Regions from separate parts of the Homo sapiens genome. Here regions 2, 3, 4 and 5 are each reported to be linked to region 1. The links are microRNA targets in miRTarBase. Many come from high-throughput screens and were not tested one by one. Region 1 holds a microRNA gene; each other region holds the end of a gene's coding sequence.
The links. Region 1 holds the annotated microRNA hsa-miR-139-3p (UGGAGACGCGGCCCUGUUGGAGU, at 798-820, shown strand). A microRNA usually pairs through its seed, bases 2 to 8, with sites in the 3' UTR of a target mRNA and lowers its output. Matches are read on the target gene's strand: a 7mer-m8 pairs with bases 2 to 8, a 7mer-A1 pairs with bases 2 to 7 and ends in A, and an 8mer does both.

Region 2: the mRNA of CCDC71L is a reported target of hsa-miR-139-3p. Seed matches in the 3' UTR shown: 8mer at 1,778-1,785.
Region 3: the mRNA of GZMM is a reported target of hsa-miR-139-3p. Seed matches in the 3' UTR shown: 7mer-A1 at 3,649-3,655.
Region 4: the mRNA of SUSD1 is a reported target of hsa-miR-139-3p. The part of its 3' UTR that is shown has no 7-base or 8-base seed match.
Region 5: miRTarBase lists WDR13 as a target of hsa-miR-139-3p. Seed matches in the 3' UTR shown: 7mer-A1 at 4,814-4,820.

Annotation. Positions count from the first base shown.
Region 1 is chr11:72,612,886-72,615,885 of GRCh38, reverse strand. MIR139 (microRNA 139) reads left to right here and starts at 756; the gene lies at 756-823. All of the region lies in intron 2 of PDE2A (phosphodiesterase 2A), which reads left to right. It overlaps LOC105369377 (a long non-coding RNA gene), which reads right to left. Exons shown (of 4, transcript XR_001748292.2): 2 at 1,584-1,794; 3 at 1,149-1,257. RefSeq lists an enhancer at 1,749-1,848.
Region 2 is chr7:106,656,698-106,661,673 of GRCh38, reverse strand. It overlaps CCDC71L (coiled-coil domain containing 71 like), which reads left to right and starts at 516. Exons shown (of 1, transcript NM_175884.6): 1 at 516-4,976. The coding sequence starts at 778. The coding sequence ends at 1,485. RefSeq lists a silencer at 1,073-1,342 and an enhancer at 1,693-1,742.
Region 3 is chr19:548,500-553,475 of GRCh38, reverse strand. It overlaps GZMM (granzyme M), which reads right to left. Exons shown (of 5, transcript NM_005317.4): 3 at 4,799-4,934; 4 at 4,291-4,554; 5 at 3,554-3,846. The coding sequence ends at 3,685. Among named protein-coding and RNA genes, the nearest start is that of GZMM, 6.9 kb to the right of the region's middle.
Region 4 is chr9:112,037,718-112,042,693 of GRCh38, reverse strand. It overlaps SUSD1 (sushi domain containing 1), which reads left to right. Exons shown (of 17, transcript NM_022486.5): 16 at 734-827; 17 at 1,202-1,911. The coding sequence ends at 1,202. LINC02977 (long intergenic non-protein coding RNA 2977) reads left to right here and starts at 2,270. Exons shown (of 3, transcript NR_186812.1): 1 at 2,270-4,515. RefSeq lists enhancers at 63-132, 223-272, 384-1,022, 428-1,627, 1,023-1,662.
Region 5 is chrX:48,603,174-48,608,149 of GRCh38, forward strand. It overlaps WDR13 (WD repeat domain 13), which reads left to right. Exons shown (of 10, transcript NM_001347217.2): 9 at 1,099-1,217; 10 at 1,675-4,976. The coding sequence ends at 1,859. Among named protein-coding and RNA genes, the nearest start is that of WDR13, 8.2 kb to the left of the region's middle. RefSeq lists a silencer at 2,968-3,262.

The DNA.
Region 1 (3,000 bases):
GAGCCCCCTCATCCATCCTGCTCAGGCTCTCTTTTGTGGCGCGACTCTGATTCACAGTGTGCCCAAATCTGCCTCCTTGTGACTGCCGCGAGCTGCCTCGTGGGCCCCAGGCCAGAGGACAAGGATAGCTAGAATGCCAGGTGACCAGGATGACTGTGATGGCATGGAGAGGGGGATGCTGTGATGTGTTTGGGAGGAAGTTTGTGGTGTCCAGGAGAATGTGGGCAGCAGAAATGGGACCACTCTCGGTTCTTCCCTGTAGATGAAGCAGCTGAAGGTGGGAGGGGGTGGGAGGAGACCTGAGCTGGCTCTGCCCCGCTTGATCTGATGTCTGCCTTGCAGGGCCATCCTCCCCCTCCCCACACTCAGCTCCTGCCTCCCTCCCTCTACCCACTCTGACTGTTCCCTCCTTTCCTGACTCCAGACTCTGGGTGAGGGACTGAGGTGATTCCAGTGAGTCAGGCCCTCAGGGAACTGATCGTGCAGGCAACTCTTGCCTGCCTTCTCCTGCTCTTTCCCTCTTCCCATTCCTTCATCCACCCCCAAACCTAGCTCCTGATGGATCCAAGGGTGCGGGGGACAACCGGGAGGTCATTTTGGAGGAGGCAGGAGCTGGAATAGAAGCTGGGACTGGCTTGGGAAGGGCGAGAGGCCGGGGCGGAGCTGGTTGTGGGCGCTGGAAGGGAGGAGCCAACAGTGTGGGGTCAGGCTCCTGTGGATGGGGACACCCTTGGGAGGCACTGGGACTGGCTCAGGTGTATTCTACAGTGCACGTGTCTCCAGTGTGGCTCGGAGGCTGGAGACGCGGCCCTGTTGGAGTAACAACTGAAGCCGGAGTCTGCGAAGGGTGGGCAGGAGGGTGGAGGGATGGGGGCATGGAGCGGGAGGGGGTAAGTAGAGGAGGGAGGGGAGGAAGAGAAAGAGGGAGGAGGAAAGGTCTCTGGCAGGTCCCTCCTTTAAGACTGGGCTCCTGCGCTGCGAGTGGCCCCGTCCATACTGCCTTGTTATCCATATCTCCCCACCACTAGTCTCCCTCTGTCCTTCCACCCCCAGCCTCTCCCCTCCATTGGGACCTTCCCTGGGGCGTCCCCTCATTGGCTGTTCTCACCTGAGCAAGGCCCCTCCCCTCCAGTCCTTAGCCTCTTCACCTGTACAATGGGATGACCCAAACAGGCACCTCTTGGGCTTGTAGGAGGATCCAAGATAGTGTCAGTGGGTCTCGAGGTGTGGTCCCCCGACCAGCAGCATCAGTGTCATCTAGGAATGTTTGGAAACGCAAGTTCTTGGACCTCGTCCCAGACCTACTGTATCAGAAACCCTGGGGGTGGGGCCAGCAATCTGCACTTTAACAAGCACTCTGGGTGGTTCTGGTGCACATGAAAATTGGGGAACGGCTGGTGGAAACCTCTAGCCACAGGAGGTGCTTGGGAAAGGTACCTTCCCCTCCCCAAAGCCTGATGCCTCACTCAAGCATGACACTGACAGTTGGGCTAGTTCAGCTGCGTTCTGGGTCTCTGTCTTGCCTCCTCCTTCAGACTAAGCCTCCCAAGGGTTGCCAAGCCTCTTTCCTCTATTCTCCTCACCCTGATCCAGCTCAGCCTCATTGAGAGAAGTCTGGGGCTGCAAGATCTTCGCACTCACAGGCAGTTCCTCTTTGCACATCCAAGGCACCAGTGTCTTTGAGAGGCGTCTCCTTGGCCAGGTGGCAGGCGTGGGTGTGTGGGGAGGAAGGAGGAGGAACCGCCTTGTTCTGCTTTCTTGTCTCTGACTCTGCAGGCTGGGGGTGCTGTAAGGCTGCGAGGAGGCATAGAGTCAGCTTGGGTGCTGGGCTGAGGCCAGGGGCCGAGGCTCAGCTGAAGCGGGCTTCTCTGGTCTGAGCCTACAGGATGCCTCCTTTGGGGCAGTTCTGCCAGTCACCCTGACTGGGCGGCTGTGCTTGCTAGTGCCAGACCCATGCTAGGCACAGAGGTCGATACGTTCTCCTGTGCTCTTGAAGGGCCCTGTCCTCTGGGAAGATAAGAGGCTGTGTATATTGCCCACCGGAACAGGAGGCAGGAAGCAAAAGAGGCGTAGATGACACTTGCCTGGCACCCCCTGTTTCCCCTCTAGCTGCCTTCCTGGGTTTCCCATTCTGTGGGCGCTTCTCTTGAGTTAGGTGCTTTCTCCCAGTGTTCTCAAGGTGACTATTTGGAGGTTTGTGGGAGGAGTGGGCTGGAGACACAGGAGTAGGTGGGGGCAGGAAGTATGCAGGAGAGAGATGGAGAGTGGGAGGAGAAGCTATGAGAGGAAGAGAGGACGCGGAGGTGGGAAAAGACGTCAAGACTCCTGGAGAGGAACAGGAGTGCAGCCTGGGACAGAGGTGGACGTCGGCCGGGGGAGGCAGGGAGGAAGGCAGGGAGGTCCACCCGAAAGGAAGGGAAGGGATGATGGACAGAGAATGAGAGGGCTCCGAGGTCCTGGGGGATCTAGAAGGACCCTTCCCTTTACAGAAGGGGACACCAAGGCCCAGAGAGAGAGGAGGGCCTCACAGAGGACCTAACACAAGCAGAGTTGCATGAATCAGTGTGAACGGACAGTCCCAAGAGCACAGCCGGACCTTGGGAGGTACTTGACTCTTGAGTTTGATGTTATTGCCTTCCTGTAGGCCAGTGTGAGGGGCACTGTGAGGCTTCCTTCCAGAGAAGGAGGCATGGAGCCAGTGCCAGGCAGTGGGGTGAGCCATAGGAGGACCTGTGGAGATGGGGAAAGGCATAGAGACTCATGAAGATGAAACAGGAAAGATCTTATGGCAGCGACCCCAACCCTCAGGAAGGGCGTTGGTCTTGTGCTTGTGGCTCCAAAGGGGATAAGACCAAGGTCTCTGGTTTCATAGAATCTTAGGCTTTAAGAACGAGTTAGAAGTAATTTAGTCCAGACCCTCTCCTCTCCCCAGATAAGTGCAGAAATGCAGATCTAGCCCACGGCTGAGCCCCAACCCTGGCTTCAGAGGAGGCCTGACTC
Region 2 (4,976 bases), not on the chromosome of region 1:
ACGCACATTACCTGAATGATTCTGGATTACTACTGGCTTCTTGAGATGGGCTGGGGTCAAGACAGGGAAGAGTTTTGAATGAAGATGCCAGAAGAGGCCTTTGAGAGGGTGGATGGGAATTGCGAAAGGCCCATTTCCCCTAGACTTAAACCCAAATTCCCTAGCTGTGATGATACCAGGAACATCCTTCAGGGAAATCTCCCTTTGTTATCCACACTGGTAGAGCTCCCAGCTCAATCCACAACTGCACACCCCCTCACTCTAAGAGTCACTCTTCCCATGGTGTAGCCAACATCCACCCTCTTACTCTAGACGTGGCAGCCCTCCTAGATCCACCCAACCGTTGACTTACGTTCAAAGGCCATCACCCACCCCAGCACCATCTTCCAGGAACTGGCCTCTCCCCCATCAGTCCCCGCCCCTCTTCTGAGAGCACCCAATGGGTGGAGTCGGGGCTGCGGTGGGAGGGGCCTGAGGCGGGCACATTTAAAGAAAGGCAGCCGGCGAAAAGAGGCAAGAGAGGAGAAGAAAGAGAAACCAGGGGGGCGAGGCGCCGTCCAATGACAAAGCCCAGGGGTGGGCGCCGGCCGCCATCTTGTACCGGGCAGCAGGATATTCGCCCGCGTCCTCCGCCCTCGGAGGGGGAGGGGCGGCGGCGGAGGCGAGAAAAGTAGCGAGAGACGCCAGCAGCAGCCGCCGCCGCGGAGCCAACGCGGACTGGGACGGCGGCGGCAGTAGTGGGACCCGGCGAGCGTGAGTGGCCCGGAGCGGCCTTCGATGCGGCGCAGTATGAAGAGGCGGCGGCGCCGGCGCCCGGTCGCCCCGGCCACGGCCGCCCGGGGCGGCGACTTTAGGGCAGAAGACGGGGCTGGGTTGGAGGCGCGGGAGGAGAAGGTGGTGTACTCGCGGTCGCAACTGTCGCTGGCTGACAGCACCAAGGCGCTGGGCGACGCCTTCAAGCTCTTCATGCCCCGCAGCACGGAGTTCATGAGCTCGGACGCGGAGCTCTGGAGCTTCCTCTGCAGCCTCAAGCACCAGTTCTCCCCGCACATCCTGCGCAGCAAGGACGTCTACGGCTACTCCTCCTGCCGGGCCCTGGTACCCGACCCCCCGGGGCCCCCTACAGCCCGCGGCCAGGCGCGCCGGCCGGTTCCGCGCGCAGCGGCCAGGAGGAGGCGCCGCGGAGCCCGGGCGGCCGCTGCCCGCAGGAGGAAGCCCCGGCCGCCACCCCCACCGCCGCCGCCCCCCGAGGAGAGCTGCCCGGCCAAGCCCGTGGCCCCCGGGCCCTGCTTCGGGGGCCGCACCTTGGAGGAGATCTGGAGGGCGGCCACCCCGACGCTGACCACCTTCCCCACCATCCGCGTCGGCAGCGACGTGTGGGGCGAGCGCAGCCTGGCGGCAGCGCGGCGCAGGGCGCGCCAGGTCCTGCGAGTGAACCTGGAACCCATGGTGAGGCTCCGCCGCTTCCCGGTGCCCCGGGCATGAGGTGCGGCCTCCAGGGCGCCTCCTGCCGGCCCCGACCTTGGGACAGGCCTTCCGCCCGGAGGAATGAACAAGTGTCAGTCGAGTGTTTACAGATCCGGCCAGGACCCCGGCCCCCAATGCACTTTACGCGCGAAGAAGTTGCCGGATGGTTGTCCCTGTCCCGGGCCGCGGCGCGGTCGTCTTGGACGCTGGGGCAGGTGTGCCCTCTGCTGCCTCCCGTACCCGGCCTGCGGAGGGAGGGGACAGCTGGACCCGCAGGGGAGGTCCCTTTCTTCCTGACCACCGATTGAGACGTCTCCAGGACCTTAGGGGCAGATCCGTTTTCTCACTGTTGGACTCTACCTCACTGGTCTGGAAGTCCTCCGAAGACATTATTTTTCCAAAGGAATTTGGTTTCGTGCTTGTGTAATAAAGCCAGAATTTACTTGTTCTTTATCTCCCCCTTTTTCTATTTCACTGTCACCCCTCTTTGTGGACAGAAGTTCGAACATGTGGTGTTGCACTAGTTTGTGCTCAGGGTATTCTGAAGCCCACTCGTTTCCTAATTTTTACTGGATTCCAAAGCTTTGATCGAGGATATTTTTTAAGAGGTTCAAGCTTGTGACTGTTAGTAGTGCAAGGATTTGTATGGGCTCAGTGATTACAAACAAAGACATGCAAAATACAACTGTTTAAACATTTTCAAGGTATTTTTAAAGGTTTTGTATTGAAACAATGTTTATATTTACTGAGCTCCTAAAAATGGTAGAATACACATGAAAACTTTTGTTTAGGAAAAGTTAACTTGTTAAATTCTTTTGAATTGAATAAAAAAATGCATTGAAACCATATGGTGTGTGATTAAAAAAAATGAATAAATTGTGAAGAACTGGTTTTGGTTACAGGAGTCACTGGAATCCGACTGGAGATGATTTGGCCCCCTGTCCTGGTCTAACATACAAATCTAGGAATATTATGCGTTAAAGTATTTTAAAATACATTATCCTTGTAATGTATTTTACAAGGATAATGTATTTTAAAATGGGAGTTGCATAGGAGAGATGGATGTGTGTAAACATTATCACTAAAATGATAAACAGAATACCCATTAGAATTCTTAGAACTATTAATGATCAAGAGGGGTGGAGGCATTTCTTGGTATCAAATAACTGGTTAAGGTTACTTTGGGCGAAATCTATTTCCTTTTTGTTTTTGTTGTTGGATAACAAGAAATGTCTAGACTAATATTCATCAGTTTTACAAACATAATGAAAATTAGTTGATTTTTAGTTGATTTTTTTGTCCCAACATTTTTTTTAACCTTTTTGCCACTCATTATATGTTTGCAGTTCTAGGTCTTTGACAGCTGAAGACCACAGGAATCAAACAGGCGAGACACACAGAATACTGACCCTTCTTTACGCTTTTATAGTGTTTATACCATATGGCCCAGTGTGGAATTCTTGATTATCCAAGTGCCTTTGGTCATTTGTGGCAGGAAAACTTAATAGTTTTTAGCCAGCAGTGCCACAGCCAGCTTTTACTGCAATACCTAAAGGGTCAAGTAGTGTTTTTGTACCACTATTATTTCAAATTTAAGTATTCTGCCATGAAACGATCCATACTGGGCTGGAACTTGACATGTGAAATCTTTAATACTAAAGCTTATCTCTGCTTGGCAGCTTTTTAGGAGAATAATGAGAGTTACAATTTTGACTCTTGCGTTCCTAGAATTCAAATGGCATAGCTTTCTGAAATGAGTATTTCAAGTTTAGTAGTCCGTATAGGAGTGTTGTGACTTCAATTTCAGTGTTCTTGTTAAAAGAAATAATATGATATATATATACACACATATATATAACTTGATGCCAGTTTTCTAGTAAGCCTCAGTCTTTTATTCACTACTCAATGATAATGCATTGTACAAACACTGTCACATGAGTAAATAAAAATGAATAATTCCTTAGAAGATGGAGAGTGTTAAATTATATTTGTGATAGGAAGCTTAGACATATCTTTTGGTTATTAGCTTCCATTGCCAATTGTATTTCAGATGCATAGGGTTTTCTTCCCAAAAATATATTGTTAACTTTTATAGCTAACTAGCACCTGGAAAAAATGTATTTGTACAACTTTACTATTGTATATAGTTTTATAATAATGAAAAATAAACCCAATGGCCATATTAGAATGCAATTTCGACATACAGCTTATCTAGATAGTTTTCCAGAGGATTTTGAAATTTGGCTTAACTGGGAGGATAACTGCTCAGCACACCACTGAAACATAACCACTGACACCATTCATTTATTTTAACTGAGATTCTTGACATTTTTCTCTCCTATGCCTTGTTACTTTAGCATACTTGAACTCACATAAATGCTTCTTTGGATTACATGGGCTATCTGATTCCATTTTGGATCTGATTGTCCATCTTGAATTCAATATGGTATTCATCTGGACTATTCAAAAATTATGCCATTTCTAGTCTGTGAAATAAGATGTAAAAAATCTTTATTTTTGCCCTTTGGTAAAAACCTATGTGACAACTTTTAAAATGTGAAGCAACATCTAATATAGTTGACTGGTATACTAATAGGAAAGTGAAAGTATTTCATGGGTACTTTGTCACAGAATGTGAAAAGAAACTTGGCATAGTGGCCTTTATAATGAGGCATCCACTTACTCCTCTGAAGTGAAGTCTGTAGCTTAGCTTGTGTATAGTTTTTGAAAGAAATCTCATGATCTTCGTTCATTCTCTTGCCTTCTCTTTTATCTCATATGGCACAAGTAGAGGGGGAAGCCAGGAGGAAATTCATCACCTCGCTATGCTTTTATTTGATTTTTAATTCCTGAGTGCCTAAATGTGGTGACCGGCACCTCACATAACTTTTTGAGATTCTTGATGTCATTTTTATCCTTCCTGTCAACCAGCAATGTATTTTTATGTTACTAAAACCAGTAACGTCATAATTGTTGAGGGCAAGCTTCATTGTTGATAGTGCAAAGTGTCGCTGTTGTGATGTGTGTTTATTTTATTCAAGTTTGAATATTGACAAGTGTAACTTAAGCTGGTGACTGACACCTATTGATCTGCTGTGTGCAAATGATAGTACTATTTTTTAGAAAACTCTTAAGTAAATTTTAAAAATATTTGAATACAAAATATCTGAGCAATTTTGAACTCAAAAGTTTTTCATTGTTTTAAGGATTGCCACAGGACTCTTTAATGGTTTTTAATGGACATACATGCCTAATATTTATTGGTGTGTTTAAAATATTTTTTGATAGAGTGTTATGTCTTAAGCGCATTAGAAAACAATTGTTTGTAATGGAATCAAAGTGTTTCCCTGGACAGTTTGATGTGCTTATGGTTGAGATTTATAATCTGCTTGTACTTTGCTTTTTAACTTATTAACTGTAAATAAATTTTAGAGAATACATAGTGTCTAGTTTTTCTAATGATTTGAACATTTTTGAAATGGTATTTTGTATTTGTATGTGACTCAGAA
Region 3 (4,976 bases), not on the chromosome of region 1:
AAACAAAAAAAGAACCCAAACAGGCAGGGCCCATCTCTGGGGTTAGAGACTGGACTTGGGGCGGGGCGCAGTGGCTCATGCCTGTAATCCCAGCACTTTGGGAGGCCGAGGTGGGTGGATCACGAGGTCAGGAGATCGAGACCATCCTGGCTAACACCGTGAAACCCCGTCTCTACTAAAAATATTTAAAAAATTAGCCAGGCGTGGTGGCGGGCGCCTGTAGTCCCAGCTACTGGGGAGGCTGAGGCAGGAGAATGGCGTGAACCCAGGAGGTGGAGCTTGCAGTGAGCCGAGATTGCACCACTGCACTCCAGCCTGGGGGACAGAGCGAGACTCGAATCTCAAAAAAAAAAAAAAGAGACTGGACTTGGGTACTTGGCTAAGGAGGGGCTTCGGGGCAGGGGGTTGTGTCTGGACCCAGGTGCCGGGAACAGGGGCGTGCCTGGTTTGTGAGTTATGAGGCTCTTCACTTGTGACCTGAGAACCTTCCACTGCCAATGATGCCATAAAAAGTTAAAGATTAGGCCGGGCGCGGTGGCTCACACCTGTAATCCTTTAGGAGGCTGAGGTGGGAGGATTGCTGGAGCCCAGGAGTCTCTAAAAAAATAACATAAAAAAATTAAAAAAGTTAAAGATTAAAAATGCACTTGCCTCTCCCAAAAACACTGTGACTCCAGTCCAATCGAGAGAAAAACATGAGATAGCTGGCGGGTGCAGTGGTCCACACCCGTAATCTACATAAATCCCGTCCAGCCGGCCTCCAGACACGGAGTTCTGAGAAACGGTCGGAGCCTGGGGGTGCCGAGGAGAGGCTGCGGCGAAACGGCAGGTTCGGTCCCGGGTGGGACCCTGTGCAGGAAGAGACATTAGGGGAAACTGAGGAAATCCGAGCCAAGAGTAGGTCCTTAGTAGTTAATCACGCATTCATGTGAGTTCGTCAGCCGTGACTCCTGCTGACTGGAGAGGGGAGCGGCCAGGAGCCTGGGGGCGGGGACGCGGGGGACCCTGTGGATACAGCCGCCACACATCTCCTGCAGACCAAAAATGGTTTTAAAAATTAAGTCTATTACAACACTAACCCGGCCGGGCACAGTGGCTCATACCTGTAATCCCAGCACTTTGGGAAGCCGAGGCGGGTGGATTATTTGAGGTCAGGAGTTCGAGACCAGCCTGACCAATATGGTGAAACCCCGTCTCTAGTAAAAATCCAAAAAAATTAGCTGGGCTTGGTGGTGGACCCCTATGATTCCAGCTACTTGGGAGGCTGAGGCTGCACTCCAGCCTGGGCAACAGAGTGGGAACTGTCTAAAAATAAAATAAAATAATAAAAAACCATTAACGTGGGCACAGTGGCTCATGCCTGTAATCCCAGCACTTTGGGAGGGCGAGGTGGGCGGGTCACCTGAGGTCAGGAGTTCAAGACCAGCCTGGTCAACGTGGTGAAACCTGTGTTTCTATTAGTCTCTACTAAAAATACAAAAAAAGTTAGCTGGGCGTGGTGGTGCACGTCTGTGATCCCTCAGCTACTCAGGTGGCTGAGACACAAGCATCGCTTGAACCTGAGATGGCTTGCAGTGAGCCGAGATCGTGCCACTGCACTCCAGCCCGGGTGACGCACTGAGACTCCATCAGAAGAAAAGAAAGGAAAATAAAAGAAAAAAAGAAAAGAAAAGAAAGAAAGAAAGAAAGAAAGAGAGGAGGGGAGGAGAGGGGAGGGGAGGAGAGGGGAGGGGAGGGGAAGGGGAGACGGGGAAGAAAGGAAAGAAAGGAAAGAAAGAAAGAGAGAGGAGGGGAGGGGAGGGGAGAGAAGGGGAAGGGAGGGAAAGAGAAGAAGGGGAAGGGAGGGAAAGAGAAGAAGGGGAAGAAAGGGAAGAAAGAAAAGAAAAGAAAGAAAGAGTTGGTAGTGAAATTAAAAGATTCTGCAGGAAAACAGCGCGGCGCTGAAACAGAGTCACTGAACAGCCCGAGATGCCACTCCCACGGGTCTAATCTGGAGGGAGGAAGGAGCAGGTAGGTCCACACGAAAACGCACACAGGCGGCTCCCAGCAAAGCTTCAGACGGACGGACGCAGACGAAGCCGCCCAGATGTGCACCCAGGGACGCACCCACAAACGCAGCGAGGCCCCCCTCGAGCTGGAGCTCGACCCCCCGGAGCAGGAGCACGGCTCGGACCCAGCCAGCGCGCGGGTGCAGCTTGAGGACGTCACGCTCAGCGGGAGACGCCAGACACAGAAGGCCACGCAGCGTGATCCCCTGTCCATGAAATGTCAGCACAGGCCCATCCAGAGACAGGGAGGGGATGTGAGGGCACCGGGGCTGGGGTGGGGACGGGGAGTGACGGCCGATGGGGACGAGCCTCCTTTTGGGGTGCTGGGGTGACAGTGGGGACAGAGTCTATTTTCGGGGTGCTGGAATGACAATGGGGGTGGGGCTTCCTTTTGGGGTGCTGGGGTGATAGAGATGGGGCCTGTTTTCGGGCTGCTGGGGTGACAGTGGGGACAGGCCTGTTTTCGGGCTGCTGGGATGACAGTGGGGACGGGCCTGTTTTCGGGGTGCTGGGGTGACAGTGGGGACAGGGCTGTTTTCGGGGTGCTGGGGTGACAGTGGGGACAGGCCTGTTTTCGGGGTGCTGGGGTGACAGGGGGACAGGCCTGTTTTCGGGGTGCTGGGGTGACAGGCCTGTTTTCGGGGTGCTGGGGTGACAGTGGGGACGGGCCTGTTTTCGGGGTGCTGGGGTGACAGTGGGGACAGGCCTGTTTTCGGGGTGCTGGGGTGACAGTGGGGACAGGGCTGTTTTCGGGGTGCTGGGGTGACAGGACTGTTTTCAGGGTGCTGGGGTGACAGGGGACAGGCCTGTTTTCGGGGTGCTGGGGTGACTGGGGACGGGCCTGTTTTCGGGGTGCTGGGGTGACTGGGGACGGGCCTGTTTTCGGGGTGCTGGGGTGACTGGGGACGGGCCTGTTTTCGGGGTGCTGGGGTGACTGGGGACGGGCCTGTTTTCGGGGTGCTGGGGTGACATGTCACGGTGGTGGTTGCCCAGCTCTGTGCAGGTACCAAAGGCCCCTGAATCGCAGTTTACAGGGAGACTCATCTGCTATGTGAGTTGTAACTTGATAAAAGCTGTTACTAAAAAAGAAGATCCTGGGATGCTGTTCAAGGCCCAGCCCCAGGAGCCACGCGGGGAGGACGGCCGCCCACCCCTGCCAGCCTGCAGACCCGGCCACCGCTCCAGTCCTGGCCAACGCCGCCCCCTCCTGGGAGAAGCCTTGGGATCCACAACCTCCCTTTTTAAAACAGGGAAGGGCCGGGCGCGGTGGCTCACGCCTGTAATCCCAGCACTTTGGGAGGCCGAGGTGGGCAGATCACAAGGTCAAGAGTTGGAGACCAGCCTGACAAACATGGAGAAACCCCTTCTCTACTAAAAATACCAAAAGTTAGCCTGGCGTGGTGGCGGGCGCCTGTAGACCCAGTTACTCGGGAGGCTGAGGGAAACAGGTTTGTCGGAAGCCCCACAGCCAGCATGGACAGAGGTGGGCTGGGACTCAGGCGGGCTCTGAGCGTTTCTTCATTATGATTTATTGGTCCCTCCCTGTCCCTCCCACCCGTCCTCACCCACCCCACTGCACCCCTGGAGGGGAAGGGTCCTGTGGAGACAGCGAGGGGGTCCCCATCACCCCAGGGCATCAGGCCGATCGGCCGGTGACCTTCCTGATCCAGGACACGTAAGGCGCCACAGCGGTGGCCACGGGAGGCTTGAAGATGTCAGTGCAGACCCTGGAGCTGAAGGACAGGACTCTGGCCAACACCCGGCCTTTGCCACACACCAGGGGCCCGCCCGAGTCACCCTGCAGGGACGACACACCGCAGCTCAGCCTCTGCACCTGCTGAGGGGACGAGGGGAGCAGGGCCCGCCGAGGGGAGCAGGGCCAGGCCTGTTATCCCCAGGCTCAAGGAGACACAGGGGCTGCTCCCGGCCCACGCGTGTCCCCTCCCCATCTCCCGCTGGCCCTGTGAACCCTGCTCCTTCTTCCCCCGCCGGACCGTCTTGGCTGGAGCAGAAGTCACAGCTCTGCCGCTTCCCGGCTGTGTGGTCTTGCGCAGGTTGCTAAACCTGTCTGAGCCTCAGTTTCTGCACCTGAGAAACGGGACCCCTGCCAGTGCTTCCCCGCCCCCCAGCCCCTGACAGGACTCCCCAGAGAACGGGAGAGCCAGGAACCTGCCCGGCGGCTGCCCTGGCCCCGGCCCTCCCGCCAGCCTCATTCCCCCAGCCCCACCCGGGCGCCCCTCACCTTGCAGGGAGCCTGGTCCTTGGAGTCGGCCGCCAGGCAGACCATGCTGGGGGAGAGGCTGCCGTTCCAGAAGCGGCTGTTGTTACACATGCGGGTGTCCAGCACTTGGAGGTCCAGCTCCCGCAGCACCCGGGACAGGCGCCCGCCCTGGTGGGTCAGCCCCCAGCCGGCCATGCTGCACCGAGTCCCTGCTGCCACCACCTGGCGCTTACTGGGCAGGGCCAACGGCCGGATGGTCCGGCTGGGCTTCACTTTCCCGTCCAGCTACGAGTGACAGGAAGGGGCAGGTGAGCAGGGGGAGGGGGTGAGAGTGCGGGGGCGGGGGGCGGCAGCGGGGGGAGGGGTGGCAGTGGGGGGAGGGTGGGCAATGGGGGAGGGGGCAGTAGTGCGGGGGGAGGGGCAGCAGTGCGGGGGGAGGGTCGGCAGCGGGGGGAGGGCGCAGTGGGGGTGAGGGGCACCCGTGGGGGACAGGAGGGTGCCCAGTTCTCCCTGTCCCGTCCCTGCACACCTGAAGCAGCGCGAGGTCGTTCTCCAGGGCAGGGACGGGCTTGTAGCGAGGGTGCTGGATGGCTGCCTTGATGTGGAAGGTGAGACCGGGGCTGTCCAGGGTGTGGAGCCCCAGCACCAGCCTCAGCTGGGCCATCCTGGGGACAGAGGGAATCAGGGTGCTGCGGCCTGGCCCGGCG
Region 4 (4,976 bases), not on the chromosome of region 1:
TGGCACATAGTAAGTGCTAAGTAAGTGTTTGCAAATTAAAATGAAATTTTTGCTCTAATCTAGAACATGATTCTCTAAGTCAGTCACTTGGCCCACATGTGCAACTCAACTGTGAGTGTTTTTTAGTTTATAATCGGGGATCTCCCTGGAGTTGGCATGTGATGGTCCCCAAATAGAAAGTATGTCTTTCAAAGTACTTTTATCCTCTCAGTAAACCTGCTGACCTGAGCAGGGAAGTATGACCCTTGTTGAGGTATGGAGAAAATGACAGGTGACTCAACAAAGGATATTCCTTTGCTCTATCTGACCATCAGGGCTATCAGTTTTGGAAACCAAATTCAAATAATATCATAATGACTTGTCCCTCCATGCAAAAGAAAACGGCCCATAAAAATCTATCAAATGTAATTGATTGTGAGAGGACCAACAAAAAATGTAACACGTTGCATAGTATTTGTGTGCTCAACAAGATTAGCTGTTTTCTCCCTTGTAACTTTAACATGGTCTGGCTTTACACTTCCTTTTCAGAAATACCTTGTAACTGTAATTTCCTGAGGCTGCATATCCACAGGGCCAACTCAGGGGACACACAGGCATGTTGGGCATTCTTGGGATTCTTTGTTAAATGGGGCCAAGCTCTGGGTTAAAATGGATTGAGCACAGTGGGGTGTGTGCCTCCTGGGAGGTGGTGATGCCGTGCACTCTGGGCTAAGCCTGTGGTTTTGTCCCACAGATTCGTCACTCATGCTGCTGCAGATGGCGGGTGTTGGACTGGGTTCCCTGGCTGTTGTGATCATTCTCACATTCCTCTCCTTCTCAGCGGTGTGGTATGTGAGGGTGTCATTTTTGAGAAATGACTGGAATGGAGGGGAGGATGGGTCAGAGTCACGAAGAACAGCTGGGGATGAGGGGAGTCAAAGGGAGTGTGGGTGGAGGTTGTCCTTGGCTCAGCAGAGCACACTCAGCGGTGAAAGGCATGACTAACCCTGTACCTCCAGGTAGCATGGGGGATGCCTTCCCAGGAAAAGAGCAGGACCAGTGATGGCTGCCCTGGCCACACACAGAGGGGTGGCTGAGCTTCCATGCTGCTCCCCCTCGCCTCCTCCCATGGGTGTGCGTGTGAGCTGTGCATAGAGATGCACAGTGGGAAAACCAAAGTGTGTTCATATTTGTCTCTTTTCTTTTCCTCCTCCATGTCTAGATGGCAGATGGACACTGAGTGGGGAGGATGCACTGCTGCTGGGCAGGTGTTCTGGCAGCTTCTCAGGTGCCCGCACAGAGGCTCCGTGTGACTTCCGTCCAGGGAGCATGTGGGCCTGCAACTTTCTCCATTCCCAGCTGGGCCCCATTCCTGGATTTAAGATGGTGGCTATCCCTGAGGAGTCACCATAAGGAGAAAACTCAGGAATTCTGAGTCTTCCCTGCTACAGGACCAGTTCTGTGCAATGAACTTGAGACTCCTGATGTACACTGTGATATTGACCGAAGGCTACATACAGATCTGTGAATCTTGGCTGGGACTTCCTCTGAGTGATGCCTGAGGGTCAGCTCCTCTAGACATTGACTGCAAGAGAATCTCTGCAACCTCCTATATAAAAGCATTTCTGTTAATTCATTCAGAATCCATTCTTTACAATATGCAGTGAGATGGGCTTAAGTTTGGGCTAGAGTTTGACTTTATGAAGGAGGTCATTGAAAAAGAGAACAGTGACGTAGGCAAATGTTTCAAGCACTTTAGAAACAGTACTTTTCCTATAATTAGTTGATATACTAATGAGAAAATATACTAGCCTGGCCATGCCAATAAGTTTCCTGCTGTGTCTGTTAGGCAGCATTGCTTTGATGCAATTTCTATTGTCCTATATATTCAAAAGTAATGTCTACATTCCAGTAAAAATATCCCGTAATTAAGATTGTTCTTCCCTTGGTTAATTTTTCTGTTACTAAGCGTCTTCTAAAAATGCTCTTTGCCCCCTGTTAGAAACTGAGATTTGGTGGTAGTGTAGTAGCAATGCTTAAAACAGTATTGAGCCCATGGCTAGACTAGAGTCCATGTGTGTTTCAGGGGAGGGGTTGCCATAGAGGGTGACACTTCTTTTATCTAAACTTCAGTAACTATGAATGTTACTCCATTATGAACTATGAAACATTAGATATAAGCGGTGCTGGACCTACTGTGAATATGCTAAGTTGACAGCTGGAGTCTATTTGATTTTACTTTTAAATCATGAATTGGCATTCTTTCCTCTTTTTTTTTTTTTTTTTTTTGAGATGGACTCCCACTCTGTTGCCCAGGCTGGAGGGAAGTGGCGTGATCTCAGCTCACTGCAACCTCTGCCTCCCGGGTTCAAGTGATTCTCCTGCCTCAGCCTCCCATGTAGCTGGGACCACAGGGCCCCCCCACCACGCCCAGGTAATTTTTGTATGTTTAGTAGAGATGGAGTTTCACCATGTTGGCCAGGGTGGTTTCAAACTCCTGATCTCAGTTGATTCGCCCACCTTTGCCTCCCAAAGTGCTGAGATTACAGGTGTGAGCCACACGCCCGGCACTAACTAACAATTTAACTCCAAGACTCAGTAAGAAACGAATGGGGAAGGAAAGACAGAGGCTTCTGGCATCTCTCCTTCTCCCTTGCCTGCTAGGCCTAGAGAAGAAAAACCATGGAGGAGGGGAGGTGATACTGCACAGCCTCAAGATGCAGCATAGACGAATGCAGTCCTTAGCAAAAGGAAAGGGCTTCCCAATGCAGTGGGCCGGTGTGTTCACCGGCTTGCTGGGTGTCAGTGAGGGAAGACTCTGAGTGCCTTGGGCTTATGGGCAGATGAAGAGACAAGAGGAACAAGTACAAACTGCCCATGTAGCTGCTCCACCCCAGGGAGTCCAGAGTGTATCCGCTCTATTGGGAAGAATTAGAGAGAGGCGAGTAATATCCTGACATTCAGGTGTTCAATGCCAGCTGTCAGCCTCTGGCCCCTGCCAGTGTTAGGAATGATTCCCCTGTCCTCTGGGGTACTGCCCTCCGACGACAACTTAGGATCAGCATTTAAAACCCTTTCTGCTCTCGTCTTAGGTAAATTATAGACCAGAACGGGTCTATAATGGGGACAGGTCCCCATCCTAACCCCCAGAGACCGTTTCTCTCAATAGATGAATACAAATAGCTCTCAATTTTTAATTTTTATGTGCAATAATGCAAACATACTTTTTTTTTTTTTTGAGACGGAGTCTCACTCTTTCTCCCAGGCGGGAGTGTAGTGGCGCTATCTCGACTCACTGCAAGCTCCGCCTCCCGGGTTCACGCCATTCTCCTGCCTCAGCCTCTGGAGTAGCTGGGACTACAGGTATCCGCCACCGTGCCCAGCTAATTTTTTGTATTTTTAGTAGAGATGGGGTTTCACCGTGTTAGCCAGGATGGTCTCGATCTCATGACCTCGTGATCCACCCGCCTTGGCCTCCCAAAGTGCTGGTATTACAGGCATGAACCACCACGCCTGGCCGCAAACATACATTTTTATAGCTCCTGAACTAAATTGGGTATCAATACAAATTACTGTGGTTAGTGTAGGGCTCGGCCTCTGATGAGTGAGGATCTTTCCTCAAAGCCCACCTTTGTCCAAAGAAAGAATCTGAGCCTCCCCTTGACTTATTTTATTTTTTGCCAGTTTTGTAAATGCTGTATGCTTCCATACTACCCCCTTCCCTAATTTCCACCTCTAGAATTAACTGCCAGAGATACAGTTGTCCACATGGAATGTAGTATAATTGTGATAGAAAGGAAGAAATCCCCCTTGCTTAGTATTAAAAGTTTCTGGTTAAAATAACTGACTAAATATTAAGTAAAACATCACCTTCTGGGTACAATGCAGAAAAGTAAAAGCAGTTCATATAAGATTACTAAACTTTGGGAGGTCTTCAAGACCAGCCCTGGCAACATAGCGAGACCCCATGTCTGCAAAAAAAGTTTTAAAAATTAGCCGGGCATGGTGGCGTGCACTTGTAGTCCCAGCTACTCAGGAGGCTGAGGCAGGAGGATCGCTTGAGCCCAGGAGTCTGAGGTTGCAGTGAGCCGTGGTGACACCACTGCACTCCCGCCTGGGTGACAGAGTGAGATCCAAAAAAATTTACTGAAATAACAAAAACGTGGACTTTGGGATTTCCTCTAACTGCTGCAAATTATAACACAGAATTGCTCAGTGTTAATACTTGAATTGTGGGGCCAAGTCTTCTGGCTGCCCTAGTTCTCTTTTCTGGCATTTGAAAGCCCTTGAGCTAGCTATGGAGCTAATCTTTGGACAGGCTTTTTGGTTCCCAGGAATGTCATGCCTTTGAATTTCCAATCTATATATATACAGTGTGTGTGTATGTATACCTGTCTTTTCACTGTAAGGCACCTCCACCCATCCCTTATAGAAGGAGCCACAAACAATCAAGCAAATGGATGGAGGTTAATTAAGGGGAAGAGGAAATAGTCTGTTCTCTGACTCGAGACCTGAAATTGCAGTGGGGCACGTAAGGTAAGACCAGAGCAGAAGTGATTATCTTGAAATTCCACTTTAGCTTGGAATAAAATTAATATTTAAATTGATTTTAAAGGAAATAAAAAAGAACATTCAGTGTTCCCTTTTCATTGCTAATCTCACATTTTCTGATTTTCTAAACCTTTTGTTTTCCCATTCTTTTCTTCTAAGAGGAACTCAATGGTCTCATAGAAGTCAATCAAATAGCGTTGTAAGAACCTTTTACCTACCACATCCTTTGTTGGTTAGACTGAACCAACAAAGCAGTGCCTGCTTCTGGGGAGGAAGGATGTGGCCTTTTCTGTGCCCCAGTTTGTGGGAGGGTGAGTCCATGAAGCAAGTCAATTTAAAAGGCAGTGTGTGCTCTTGTTTCAGAGAGAGTGAATCCTTTGGGTGGTGGTGGTGGAGTATGTGTGTGTGTGTGGTGGGTGGGGGGTGGGGCATGCACATCTAGATCC
Region 5 (4,976 bases), not on the chromosome of region 1:
GGCCAACCTTTTTAATCTATTTTTTGTAGAGATGAGGTTTTGCTGTGTTACTCAGTCTGGTCTTAAACTCTTGGCCTCAAGTGATCCTTGTACCTTGGCCTCCCAAAGTGCTGGGATTACAGACGTGAGCCACCTTGCCTAGCTCCCACCACAGTTTTGAAAGAAAGACGTTTTAAAGAAATGGCCTTTTCCGGCCAGGCACAGTGGCGCACTCCTGTAATCTCAGCACTTTGGGAGGCCAAGGCGGGTGGATCACCTGAGGTCAGGAGTTCAAGACCAGCCTGGCCAACATGGTGAATCCCCGTCTCTACTAAAAATACAAAAATTAGCTGGGCATGGTGGCAGGCGCCTATAATCCCAGCTACTTGGGAGGCTGAGGCTGGAGAATTGCTTGAACTTGGGAGGCGGAGGTTGCAGCGAGGCGAGATCGTGCCATTGCACTCCAGCCTGGGTGACAGAGCCAGACTCCATCTCTTAAAAAAAGAAAGAAAAAAGAAATGGCCTTTCCTACATTTCGAGTTTCTCACCAGGCAATGCCTTGTGGAAACCCCCCCAGGTTACCTGTGGGGACAGTGTTTTATTCTCTCTAAGGGCTGTGCAGTTTTCCACAGTGTGGGCATACCATGGTGTGTTCATTTCCTCTCTTTGTGCTTATCTTAATACCAGGATCTTTTAGAGACCCTTACAAAGAAAAACTAGTGAATGAAACTGCAGAGGCTCCCATTTATATCAACAGAGACAGTTTCTGAACCATCAGTAACTCACACATCAGCCCCTACTTATAGTTTATGTAGTCATCTCAGAATTGGGTTTCATAAGCTGGGTGTGGTGTGTGCCTATAGGTAGTCCCGGCTACTCGGGAGACTGAGGCGGGAGGATCACTTGAGCCTAGGAGGTTGAGGCTGCAGTGAGCCGTGATCGCACCACTACACTCCAGCCTGGGTGACAGAGTGAGATCCTGTCTCAAAAACAAAAAAAAAAATATGGGTTTCATGAACCCTGTAAAGAACTTAGGCACAGGGGTGGGGACACAGGCCCACAACTTGTCTCCCTGCTAGGGCTGGGGCTGTGTTTTGACCCACTCTCTCATCCTCTCAGGGTGGTAGACAACGAGGGGACCCTGCAGCTGAAGAGAAGCTTCCCCATCGAGCAGAGCTCACATCCTGTGCGCAGCATCTTCTGTCCCCTCATGTCCTTCCGCCAGGGGGCCTGCGTGGGTGAGTCCTGTAGGGACAGGGGATCTGGGTGGCTGGGGAGGGGCAGGAACCAGGGCTGGTGCCAACCTGGCTCAGACATCACGACACCGATGCCCTGACTTCCTGGACCTCATGACCCCTCCTGCCCCAACAGCCTCACTGTGGAACTCACAGCTCCAAACAGCTCAGAGAACTCACAGTTTGCACTTGATCTCGGCCAAAAGGCCGAGAAGTGATGAAAACTCACACTTTGAACGCACTAACTCCCCAAACAGCCCAGAGACCTCGCATTCTGCACACAGTACCAAAACAGCCAGGTGACCTCCCATCTAGGGATGGGGCCCCCTCAAACCTCCCCAAGCCATGCTAGGACCTCACACCTCGGACATACACCCTTCAACACCTCAGACACCTCAGGGACTTCCCACCAGGGGCACCCCAGGCGCCTCCCGATGGCCTCTCCCTCTCACCCCGACAGTGACGGGCAGTGAGGACATGTGCGTGCACTTCTTTGATGTGGAGCGGGCGGCCAAGGCTGCTGTCAACAAGCTGCAGGGCCACAGTGCACCTGTGCTTGATGTCAGCTTCAACTGCGACGAGAGCCTACTGGCCTCCAGTGACGCCAGCGGCATGGTCATCGTCTGGAGGCGGGAGCAGAAGTAGGGTCCTGTCGGCCCTGCTGCTGTCCTCCATCCCACCCCTCTTACTCCAGCCTCGTGTTGTAAATAAAGTTTCGGTGGTCATGCTGAGGGCCGGCTCCCAGCTCTGCCGGGGACGGACAGGGCAGAGGGCAGCGGGCAGCTCCAGGAACACGGTGGAACGGGGTTCATTGACTCATTTGTGCATTCATGCATCGACGGATTCATTCATTCCACAAGCATTGATTGAATGTCTGCTGGGTTACAGGCCCTGCCTTAACTGTTTTACACACTTATGCATTCGATAGACATTAGTGAGCCCTGACCGTGTGCCAGGAACTGTTCTAGGCACTGGGGATACTGCTCTGACCTAAACTGATGGAAATGCCTGCCTTCATTGGGCTTGCATCATAGCGGAGACAGTAGATAAAAACATGGAACAGGCCAGCTAATGATGAGTGGTATGAAGAAAATAAAGCAAGGATGGGAGACAGAGCTGCAGAAGTTGGGGGAGTGGGCTCTTTATGGTGACAGCATCAGGGAAGATGATCCTGACAGGGTGACTTTTTTGTTTTTGAGACAGGGTCTCACTCTGTCACCCAGGTTGGAATGCAGTGGCATGACCATAGCTCACTGCAGCCTCAACCTCCAGGGCTCAAGTGATCCTCACTTAAGCCTCCCAAGTAGCTGGGACTACAGGTGTGTGCCACCACACTCGGGTAATTTTTGTATTTTTAGTAGAGACGGGGTCTCGCCATGTTGCTCAGGCTGGTCTTGAACTCCTGGGCTCAAGCGATCCACTCGCCTCAGCCTCCCAAAGTGCTGGGATTACAGGCATGAACCACCACGCCTGGCTCAGGGTGACATTTAAAGACCTGAATGAAGTGAGTGGGAGTCATAGTGTAGGGGGAGAACATTCCAGGCAGAGAGAAAGCCAGCCTAAAGGCACTGAGGCTGGAGCGCTCCAGAAGGATCATTGTGTATGCCAGAGTCTTGCTGGACCAGAGTGTGACAGTACATGAGGTCAGACAGGCCAGATGCTTCATGGGCCACAGTTAGGACTTTGGCTTTTTTTCTGAGTGGGGGTGACCAGAAGGTGTCAAGCAGAGGAGGAACATGATCTGACTTGGTCATAGAGGCTCCCTCTGGCTGCTGAAGGGGACAGATTGGGGGTGGGGGTAGAAGCAGGGGACCCAGCAGGAGACCCCTCTGAGCGCAGTGATGGGGACTTGCACCAGGGTAGTGACAGTGGAGGAGTTGGCGGGGGAATGTTGGGTCGGACCCCCAGGGGGTTCACTATGTTAGGCTGCAGGACTCTGCTGCCTCCTCAGGGGGCGATATTCCCAACCCTTCTGTGCATTGTGTTGTTTATTAAAAGCAGGGAGCAGAGGTGTTGAGTCCTGGAGCCCCAAGCTGGTGCAGGAGCAACGGGAAGTTAAGGCTGACCTGGGGCCTCCTGCTGTGTGGCGGAATCTCCATCCCTCAGACCACCCCTGTCTCCTCCCAGCCCCATCCAGGGTACAAATTCCAGCCCTGGAACAGCTCAGAGACCAAAAAGTGATGTTAAGTATTTGAGGGGAGCCCCAAGAGAGGAGAAAAAGCTTTGAGTATTGATGGGGGTAAATAACCAAAATCACTTATCAGTGGCCTGCGTCACCAGAAAATGTCAAAGTTACCTGAAGCAGCAAAGAGGCTCTTGCTCCGGCCCCTCCCTTCCTTCTCAGCTCCATTTGTTGCCACATATGCGTTGACTGGAACTGCGACTGACATCTTGGGACCTTAGGGTCAGTCCACAGCGTGGTAGAGACTCCAGCTTGGCCCAGCATTGCTGAGCTGCTGAACTCGCACCAACAGTCTTGTTGGAGGGAAATAATCTCCCGTTTGTTCAGTCCAGTTATTTGACAGTGTGGTTACTTGCACCCCAAGCATTTCTAACTGGCACTTCCATCTAATAGACCTCAGGGTACATGGTGGTGAGATAGGGACATCAGTGAGCTGGATTGTTCCCATGGTAAAGGTCATGTATGTGTGTGTGTGTCATGGTCCTCAATACCAGCCCCAAGCCCAGTGATTTGCTAGGAGGACTCCCAAGACTCAGTATGTGGTTGTATTCATGGCTACGATTGACTTATTACAACAAAAAGATATGGAGCAAAATCAGCAAAAAGAAATGGTGTGCAGGACCAACTCCCAGAGAGACCCAGGCACAAGTTTCCAGGGCTTCTCTCTCATTGGAGTCACACAAGATGTGCTCGGTTCACAGTAATGGGTTGTGACAATACATGCGAAATGTTGCTGACCAAGGAAGCTCAATTAGAGACTCAGCACCCAGAGGTTTTTTTTGTTGTTGTTGTTGTTTTGGTTTTTTTTTGGCGGGGGGGGGGGGGTCTTGCTCTGACGCCCAGGCTGGAATGCAGTGGCATGATCTTGGCTCACTGCAGCCTCCACCTCCTGGGTTCAAGCGATCCTCGGGCCTCAGCTTCCCGAATAGCTGGAACTACAGGCGCGCACCAGCAAGCTCGGCTAATTTTTGTATTTTTAGTAGGGATGGGGTTTCACCATGTTGGCCAGGCTGATCTTGAACTCCTGACCTCAAGTGATCCTCCCACCTCAGCCTCCCAAACTGCTGGGATTACAGGCGTGAGCACCTGGCTGGTATCAAGTTTTTATTGGGGCATGGTCACATAGGCACCCCCTGCCTGGCACCTACCCAAATCCCAGGCTCCCAAAAGGAAAGCAGGGGCTCAGCATAAACCACCTTTTTTTTTTTTTTTTTAATTGAGACGGAGTCTCGCTTTGTCGCCAGGCTGGAGTGCAGTGGCGTGATCTCGGCTTACTGTAACCTCCGCCTCCTGGGTTCAAGCAATTCTCCTGCCTCAGCTTCCTGAATAGCTGGGACTACAGGCGCCTGCCACCACCACGCCCAGCTAATTTTTGTATTTTTAGTAGAGACGGGGTTTCACCATATTGGCCAGGCTGGTCTCCATCTCTTGACCTTGTGATCCGCCTGCCTCGACCTCCCAAAGTGCTGGGATTACAGGCATGAGCCACCGCTCCTGGCCCACTTTTTTATACAAACAGCTTAGGTAGAGTAAGCCATTCTTTTTTTTCTTTCTTTCTTTTTTTTTTTTTTTGAGACAGG